3 separate regions of the Homo sapiens genome follow, and all the other regions are linked to region 2. Evidence: fine-mapped expression QTL. A gene starts in region 2. Each other region holds a variant in brackets. All regions are shown on one strand. Distances are between the middles of the regions. Region 1 has its middle 3.3 kb from the start of LINC02416. Region 2 holds the start of PCED1B-AS1 (PCED1B antisense RNA 1). Region 3 holds the start of MIR4494 (microRNA 4494).

What was found.
Region 1: its variant is fine-mapped to the expression of PCED1B-AS1 in whole blood (TOPMed, PIP above 0.99).
Region 3: its variant is fine-mapped to the expression of PCED1B-AS1 in whole blood (INTERVAL, PIP above 0.99).

Annotation. Positions count from the first base shown.
Region 1 is chr12:47,349,062-47,351,829 of GRCh38, forward strand. No RefSeq gene overlaps it. Among named protein-coding and RNA genes, the nearest start is that of LINC02416, 3.3 kb to the right of the region's middle. The variant TA/T (reference allele first, on the strand shown) is at 1,457.
Region 2 is chr12:47,214,738-47,217,505 of GRCh38, forward strand. It overlaps PCED1B-AS1 (PCED1B antisense RNA 1), which reads right to left and starts at 1,706. Exons shown (of 3, transcript NR_026544.1): 1 at 1,647-1,706; 2 at 1,428-1,527. PCED1B (PC-esterase domain containing 1B) reads left to right here. Exons shown (of 4, transcript NM_138371.3): 3 at 1,485-1,952.
Region 3 is chr12:47,362,731-47,365,498 of GRCh38, forward strand. The region is part of intron 1 of LINC02416 (long intergenic non-protein coding RNA 2416); the gene reads left to right. It overlaps MIR4494 (microRNA 4494), which reads right to left and starts at 1,539; the gene lies at 1,456-1,539. The variant C/T (reference allele first, on the strand shown) is at 1,404.

The DNA.
Region 1 (2,768 bases), 130 kb after region 2:
GGTGGTAATAGTCACATTAAAGAAATGTAACTTTCTATGTTGGCTTTGAATGCTCTAATATCCATAATGAGATTTTAAAAAAATAATACACGCACTTGGATTCTTTGCTTTGCAGGTCTCTTGGACATTTAAGTAGAAGTGACATTTATTACCCAATGCTTACTAATACTGTAGTTCGGGGATGGGCAAACTACAGCCCCCTTTCCCCACCTCTGTCATTTTCTAAATAAAGTTTTATTGGAACACAGCCACTCTCTTTCTTTCACATATTGTCTCAGGCTACATTTATGCTACAGAAGGGTTGCCAACCTCTGCTGTAGACAGTTACTTGGAACACTTTGCAGAGAAATGTGGCAAGGAGAAATGTAATCTCTTTCCTAGAAATATCTACCCAAAGAGGTAATTTATATTCAGTAAAATAGTGTCCTAGTACAGTAACAAATTAGCCTTACAGTTGATTTCCTGTTAACTTCAGACTGAAATATTCACTAGCCCTTCTGAATGCTCAGTGTCATTACAATGATGTATCCACCAGCCATGGGCAACACTCTACTCTGGGCCAGGAGTTGTCCTCAGTTTTGCATTATTCTTGCTTAATTTTAAAAGTCAAACTTACATTTATTAAGGTTAATAAAGTCCCAGAACCTCATCAATGGCTAAATAACCTTTCTCTGGAAACCACATTGTTTTTTTCAGAAGTAGTACTTCCCTTTAAGCATCTATAAACCTATTTTATTTTATAGAACATGGTATTGGCCTGCCTTTAAAAATGAGTTCCTTTTTTTTTTTTTTGAGACAGAGTCTAGCTCTGTGGCCCAGGCCCAGGGTGGTGTGCAGTGGCACGATCTCAGCTCACTGTAATCTCTGCCTCCCAGGTTCAAGCGATTATCCTGCCTCAGCCTCCTGAGTAGGTGGGATTGCGTGCACCACCATGCCAGGCTGATTTTTGTATTTTTAGTAGAGATGGGGTTTCACCATGTTGGCCAGGCTGATCTCAGACTCTAAGTTTCTATTTCTTTAACAAATGTCTTTCCAAGTACTTGAGGTACAATTTCTATGATGCTTCCAAAAAAAAAAATTAACACATATTTGTTGGGTGAATAGAGAGTATGTATCAGAGTGGGAGGAACATGAGAGTTCAACTCTCAGAAGTTCCACTTCCTGCTAGTGTATGATAACCCTCTGAGCCTCAATTTCCTTATCCTTAAAATAAAAGTAATCTCTATGTCATAAGATTGTGGTCAGGATTTTAAACAATGCATGTAAAATGCATAGTGAGAGCCAGACACTTTACAAGTGGTGATTTAGTGAATGCCAGTGAAGTGGGCTTAGTTATTTTTCTTTTCAGATTTCTTTTTGATTTAGTTGGATTTTCTTAGAGGTGAACTAGATGCTTAAAAGTAGTCATGCTTAAATTTATTCAGGCAAACTTTAACAAATTTAAGATACCGTGCCT[TA/T]TACTGAAACAACAGTTTCAAGACACAGTTTGTAGCTTGAACTGGAAAGAGAATATGAAGATAAAGGACACCAGAAGGCTCTGGCACAGCTCTGGTGTCGCCGACGCTACTTAGAGCCCTAACTCCCTTACCCTCTTTCCCCAGCCTTTCAGTGCTTCACAGATGCTTGCCATTGGTCACACAGTGGCCAGAGAATGAGTGTTTGGATGATTGTCTGTCAATCCTCCATCCTGAGAAGAGAGGCAATAATTACCCCTGCCCAGATGATCCACAGCCATGGAAGGCATTCATTCCATCCTTTGGGGCAGTGATGCTTAGAAAAGCCCTCACCTGATGGCAGGCTGAAAGATCTGAATTGCAGTCCCAGTTCCGCAACCCGTCAGCTATGCAACCCCAGACACAGCAATCTGCACCATTCTGAGTCCTAAGTGTCTTCAGCAAATTAAATGAGATATCTGTGATCCTTCCAGATTTATAGCCTTTTCCATCAGGGAAGTGAAGTATATGCATGAACTTTAAAGGAATAGGGGGCTATATGCCAGCCTAAAATATCCATTCTGATTTGGGACAGGTTTCTCAGACATTTATTCTCAAGATATCCCACATTGGCTCTTTTCTCAGCTGCTAAGATCTGACCCTTGCAATAATCAGGTTTCCAGAGGTATGGAACACAACAAATTAGTAGGCCCTAGAGGGCTACTAATGGCTGTCTCCCACCTATGTAAATACACATAAATAATCACTCAGTCATCCATTCTAGAATCTTGCTAGTGTTTGCATTATACTGACTGGTGGAGCATCTCAAATCTGAAACTTGAAATGCTCCAGTGAGTATTTCTTGTCAGCGTTCAAAAGTTTCAGATTTTGGAGCATTTTGGATTTTGGATTTTTAGATTTGGGATGCTCAGCATGTATAAGAAATAAATTTTTGTTTTTGTTTTTTAATAAATTACCTAGTCTCAGGTATTCTGTTATAGAGCAGAAGCCAGGCTAAGACTGTGTTCATAATAGTGGCTCATCATTTGTTTGGCAATATATTTGTTATTAAAATATTTCACTGTGACAATACTCACTGTGATAAATTTTATTCTACAAACAACTTTCTTTAGGGTATTTTTTTACAATCTGAGGATTATACAAAACCACCTGATAAAAATAGGCGCAATAATTCTTGGGCTTTTAGTTTCAAAGTCTGTTTTCCCATCTGTTATCCAAAGTCTGGGTCGGTCTACACAACCAAAGCAAAATGTAGGATTCTGTAATTATCCTTTGACTCAGAGACAAATAGAATATCAGTAGAAAAGGGACATC
Region 2 (2,768 bases):
CTCTTCCTGATACAGATACTTTGACTAATGTAGATTTCTTTTATAAATATAAATTTATTTTACAAAAGGACAGCTTTTCAGAGATACTCTTGTGTCTGCAGTTGCTCAGAATAATCAGCTCGAAATATGCCAAATAACTATATTTTGGGGTGGCATATTTTTTATTTTTGAGATGGAGTCTCGCTGTTGCCCAGGCTGAGGTGCAGTGGCGCAATCTCGGCTTGCTGCAACCTACGCCTCCTGGGTTGAAGCGATTCTCCTGCCTCAGCCTCCCAAGGACCTGGGATTACGGGAACCTGGGGGTGGTATATTCTGATCTTCTGTAGTCATGCACTGGGACCTTCTGTAGTCATGCATTTTCTCTCTCTCTTTTTTTTCTGATTCATTATTTCCTTTTCTTTTTCATCTTGGTATTTGTAGGGAAAGTGATATTCCTCTCCCCGAAATCATATTATTCCAGACAAAAGAAAACAAATGCCTACACTTATCTAATCAATCAGAAGACCATCTCCCCCACCCTTTTTTTTTTTTTAAAGATGGAGTCTTGCTCTTGTCACCCTGACTGGAGTGCAATGGGACGATTTTGGCTCACTGCAACCTCCGCCTCCTGGGTTCAAGCGATTCTCCTGCCTCAGCCCCCCGAGTAGCTGGGATTACAGGGGCCCACCACCACGCCCAGCTAATTTTTGTATTTTCAGTAGAGACGGAGTTGCACCATGTTGGCCAGGCTGGTCTCGAACTCCTGACCTCAGGTGATCCACCCGCCTCGGCCTCCCAAAGTGCTGGGATTACAGGCATGAGCCACAGCGCCAGACGAACCATCTCCCTTTTAAGCACGCTGTCCCCTTGAGTTACCTGCTGGTTTCAAGTGGAACACTAAGGGAGGAAGCAGAAAGTTCTTATCTTGCTCTGCCACATACTGGATCTAGCTGAGGCTGGGGCTCAGGCCTGTGGTTTCCTGTAGTGTGGACTGAGCCATTTTTCCATCAAGACGTCAGTGGAGAGATGAAGTGAAAGGATTTAAAAGCGGTTTGTGGCCTGCCATGGTGGCTCACCCCTATAATCCCAGCACTTTGGGAGGCCAAGGCGGGTGGATCACCTGAGGTAAGGAGTTCGAGACCAGACTGGCCAACATGGTGAAACACCATCTCTACTAAAAATACAAAATCAGCCGGGTGTGGTGGTGGGTGCATGTAGTCACAGCTACTCGGAGCCTGAAGCAGGAGAATCGCTTGAACCTGGGAGGCAGAGGTTGCAATGAGCCGAGACCATGCCACTGCACTCCAGCCTGGGCAACAAGACCAAAACTCCGTCTCAAAAAAAATAAATAAATAAAAATAAAAGCGGTTTGTAAACTGTAACACCTTGCACAGAAACACAAGATTACTACTATTAAATATTATTTAGAAAAGTAGAGTTCTTCTTACCATTTCCCTGTTTCTTTCTTCTCACTTCCTCCTTTCCCCTTCTGACCATCTTTTCAGCCGTGAACATACCACACCAGCAAGAACAATAAGAGCCAAGGGTCTGAATTGTTTAATCAAAGGAAGAGTCAAAATAAGCTACACCCAGATTACTGAGAAAGGTGAAATGAAAACAAGCTCAAAACCAAATTCCAGGAAGATGCTGTCTTTGTATTGACTTACCATTTCATGTTTTCACACATGTCAAAGTCTTGAAGCTTCGGTCATTAGTCTTCCGCTTCCTAAAGCAAGAAACTAAATGCTGACTTGTGTCGTTTGCCCCAGATGCCACCGGAAATGTCATCTTCTCCCCAGACGCTGGCTTGCAAGCACAGCAGCACCCAGAGGCTAACCTATTTCCCCTATAGCCCAAGCTCTGAGATCTCCCGTCTGGTCACAATGATCTACAGGAGAGGAAGAAAGCTATCTAGGGACGAGATCTAGAATCAACTGAGAGAGATGCTTAAAAATCACCAGTTACTTTAATGAGTAAGTACTTTTCAGTTTTTCCATTTTATCTGAAACTTTAAGTTGGCATTTCTGACCAGCCTTTCTTGAGACCATCATTTTTTGGGCACTTACTGTAGACAGGAATCAGCACCCTAGCCTCCTTCAGCCCACCCCATGTAACACTAAAGAGACAACTGGTGCTTGGCAATAACAAAAATATTAGTGATTGATAAACTTGTAAATTTATTAAAATGGACAGTGAAAGAAAACAGCCAATTTAGTTGTGAACTGGAGAAGGGACGTGAGGCATCTGTTGTCTGCAATCTTGTATGTTGTGGTTGACCACAAAGGCTTGGCATCAGGTTTTACTTCCAGCACTACTTCTTATAAAATGGATGACCTTGGGCAGATTACTCAATCTTTTAGCCTTAATTTTTAAAAGTATAAAATGGAGAAAATTAGAATATGTAGTCCAGGTGCGGTGGCCCACACCCGTAATCCAAGCACTTTGGAAGGCTGAGGCAGGTGGATTATTTGAGTCTAAGTTCAAGACCAGCCTGGACAACATGATGAAACCCTGTCTCTAAAAAAAACTATAAAAATTAGCCAGGCATGGTGGCACAGGCCTGTAGTCCCAGCTACTAGGGAGGCTGAAGTGGGAGGATTGATTGAGCCTGCAGAGTTGCTGCAGTGAGCCATGATTTCGCCACTGAATTCCAACTTGGGCAACAGAGTGAGACAAGAAAGAAACAGAGAGAGAGAGAGAGACAGAGAAAGAAGAAAAAAAAAGAAAGAAAGAAAGAAAGAAAAAGAAAGAAAGAGAAAGAAAGAAAGAAAGAAAGAAAGAAAGAAAGA
Region 3 (2,768 bases), 150 kb after region 2:
CCACTCCACCTAACTAGACAGGACCGGAAGTTATCTCTTCCATCGTCCTCAGCATGTTGAGAGAGCAGAGCTGTAAGATCAAAACAGCCTGGACAGTGGGGCCCCTAAAGTGAGGACCCCTGTCCTGGAGAGTGGCCCAATTGCACAGGAATTTACATGAGTGAGAAACAAAATTTTGTTGAAATAATACCCTGGGATTTGAAAATTTAATTATTCTTGCAACAGTCCATCCTATCCTGATTAATATGGGAACCCGAAAGATAGGAGTGAATGAAACAATATAGTTTCTTTTCCCTGAAGCAATTGTAATTCCAATCAAAATATCAATAGGATTTTTTTGGAGACTGACAAAATGTTGTAAAGGTCTTGTAGAATAATAGAGGAGTGAGAATAGCCAATACAACTGTAAATGAAATAATGAAGAAATAGTTTTATCCAATATTAAGATATTTTATAGGTAGAGAAATTATAAGAAATAAGAAAGCTGTTAATGGAGAATAAAGACCCCAGAAACAGACCCAAATACCTTTAAGAACTTAAAGTATTAATATTAATATAAGGCCATGTGCAGTGGCTCAGGCCTGTAATCCCAGCACTTTGGGAGGCTGAGGTGGGTGTATCACTTAAGCTCAGGAGTTCGAGACCAGCCTGAGCAACATTGCAAAACCCTGTCTCTACAAAAAATATAAAAATTACCTGGGTGTGCTGGTGCATGCCCGTAGTCACAGCTGCTTGGGAGGCTGAGGTGGGAGGATTACTTGAGCCCTGGAGGTCAAGTCTGCAGTAAGCCATGATTGTGCCACTGCACTCCAGCCTGGGTGACAGAGTAAGACTTTGTCTCAAAAAAATAAAATAAAATAAAATATAAATAAGGTGGTATTTTAAAGTTAATGGGAGAATATGAATAATTCAGAAATGTTGTGATGAACATGCCATTGGGGGAAAAAGTGCAGAAGTATCTTATGCCCAAACAAATTCTATGTGGATCAATAACTTGAATGTAAAATATGAAACCATAACAATACTGGAAAAATCATTGATCTTTTTCTCATAATTTTTAACTGGGGAAAAGTGACAGACATAAAAGATAAGATTGATAAATTTACTTATATAAAAGTTAAAACTTTTTCAAGACTAGAATACCGTAAAGTCAAGAGATAAACCACAGGATAGAAAAAAAAAGTCTGCAATTTATATAACAGGAAGAGGGTTAATTTCTTTTATATACAAAGCAATTAAAAAATCAGCAACAGAAAACTGAACAATTCAATAGAAAAATAAGTTTGCAACAAAAACAAAGCAAACAGCCAATAAACACATAACATTTTTAGCTATCTAAAAAAATCAAGGAATGTAAGTTAAAACAAGATACTGTTTTTCACTTTGTATATTTTGCAAAAATA[C/T]TGGAGCTTGCACCCACCCCACCCAACCCCATTCTATGGTTTTACTTTCTGAGGTTTCAGTTACCTCTGGTCAGCCACAGTCTGGAATTTTCCATTTTGTATTTTCAGACTGCAGATGACCAGGGTAACTAAAACTTCAGAAAACAAAGTATTAAATGGAAAATTCCAGAAACAAACAACTTATACATTTTAAATTGTGCAGCATGGTATAATCCCATGGATAAAGGAGAACTACTGTAAAATGTTGATCTTACTCAAGAGTGTGGGAAACAGGACCACTCATGTATTATTAATGAAATGTAAATTGCTACAACTTTTTGGAAAGCAATTTGGCAATAACTATTAAAATTTAACAAGCACATTCTCTTAAACTCAGCAATTCTCCTTTCAGGAATTTTTCCCAAGGAAACGCTTTCACCAGGCGGCAAATATATACTGTATAGGAGTAGCATGATACTATTATTTGTAATAGTAAAAAAAAAAAAAAAAATTTAAATGCCCATCAAGAGAGGATTAAATAAACTATAGTGGCTCTGTAAAATGGGATATTACATAGCTGTTCCAAAGAACCAATGCATTTCTATGTCTTGATATGAAAAGTATCCAAACTAAACTGTTTTAAGTAGGAAAAAAAGGTAGAATACAATATCATTATAAGTGAAAATTCCTAGAATCACGTTTATACATATATTTATATACATGTATGTATATACATACAAATATCTGAGAAAAAAGAAATAATAGCTATGATTATCTTCAGCTATAATTACATTAAATATGGATTTGTAAGTAAGGAGGTAGGCGTTTACATTTCATACCCATTTGTAAGTTTTACAGCTTATGAATGTGTTGCTTTATGGTTAAAAACAAGATTTTAAACTATTAATCCTTTCATGCAAATATTAATTCTCCATTTCTACCATTCAATCTATATCTCAAAAAATTTGCATATACAAAAAAAACGGACCAAAGTTGTGGATGTTCAGAACATGTTATAAATGAGTAAACGAAGTCACCAATCATCATGAGAGGGGAGCACAATCTTTAGAAAGTCAAGCCCTGTTTCCACAGCAAGGAAAAATTCCCCAGGTTTAAGTGGTAATGGTTCTCTATCAACATTCCAAAAAGAAATTCAGTAATAATAGTAGTAGTAGCTGACATTTACTGAGTAGTGACTAAGTTGGATTCAGCAGTCAGCCCTTTTACACGCATCTTTTCTCTTTTTTTTTTCTGGCAGAGTCTTGCTTTGTTGCCCAGGCTGGAGCACGGTGGCATAATCTCGGCTCACTGCAACCTCAGCCTCCTGGGTTCAAGTGATTCTATTACCTCAGCCTCCCGAGTAGTTGGGATTACAGGTGTGCACCA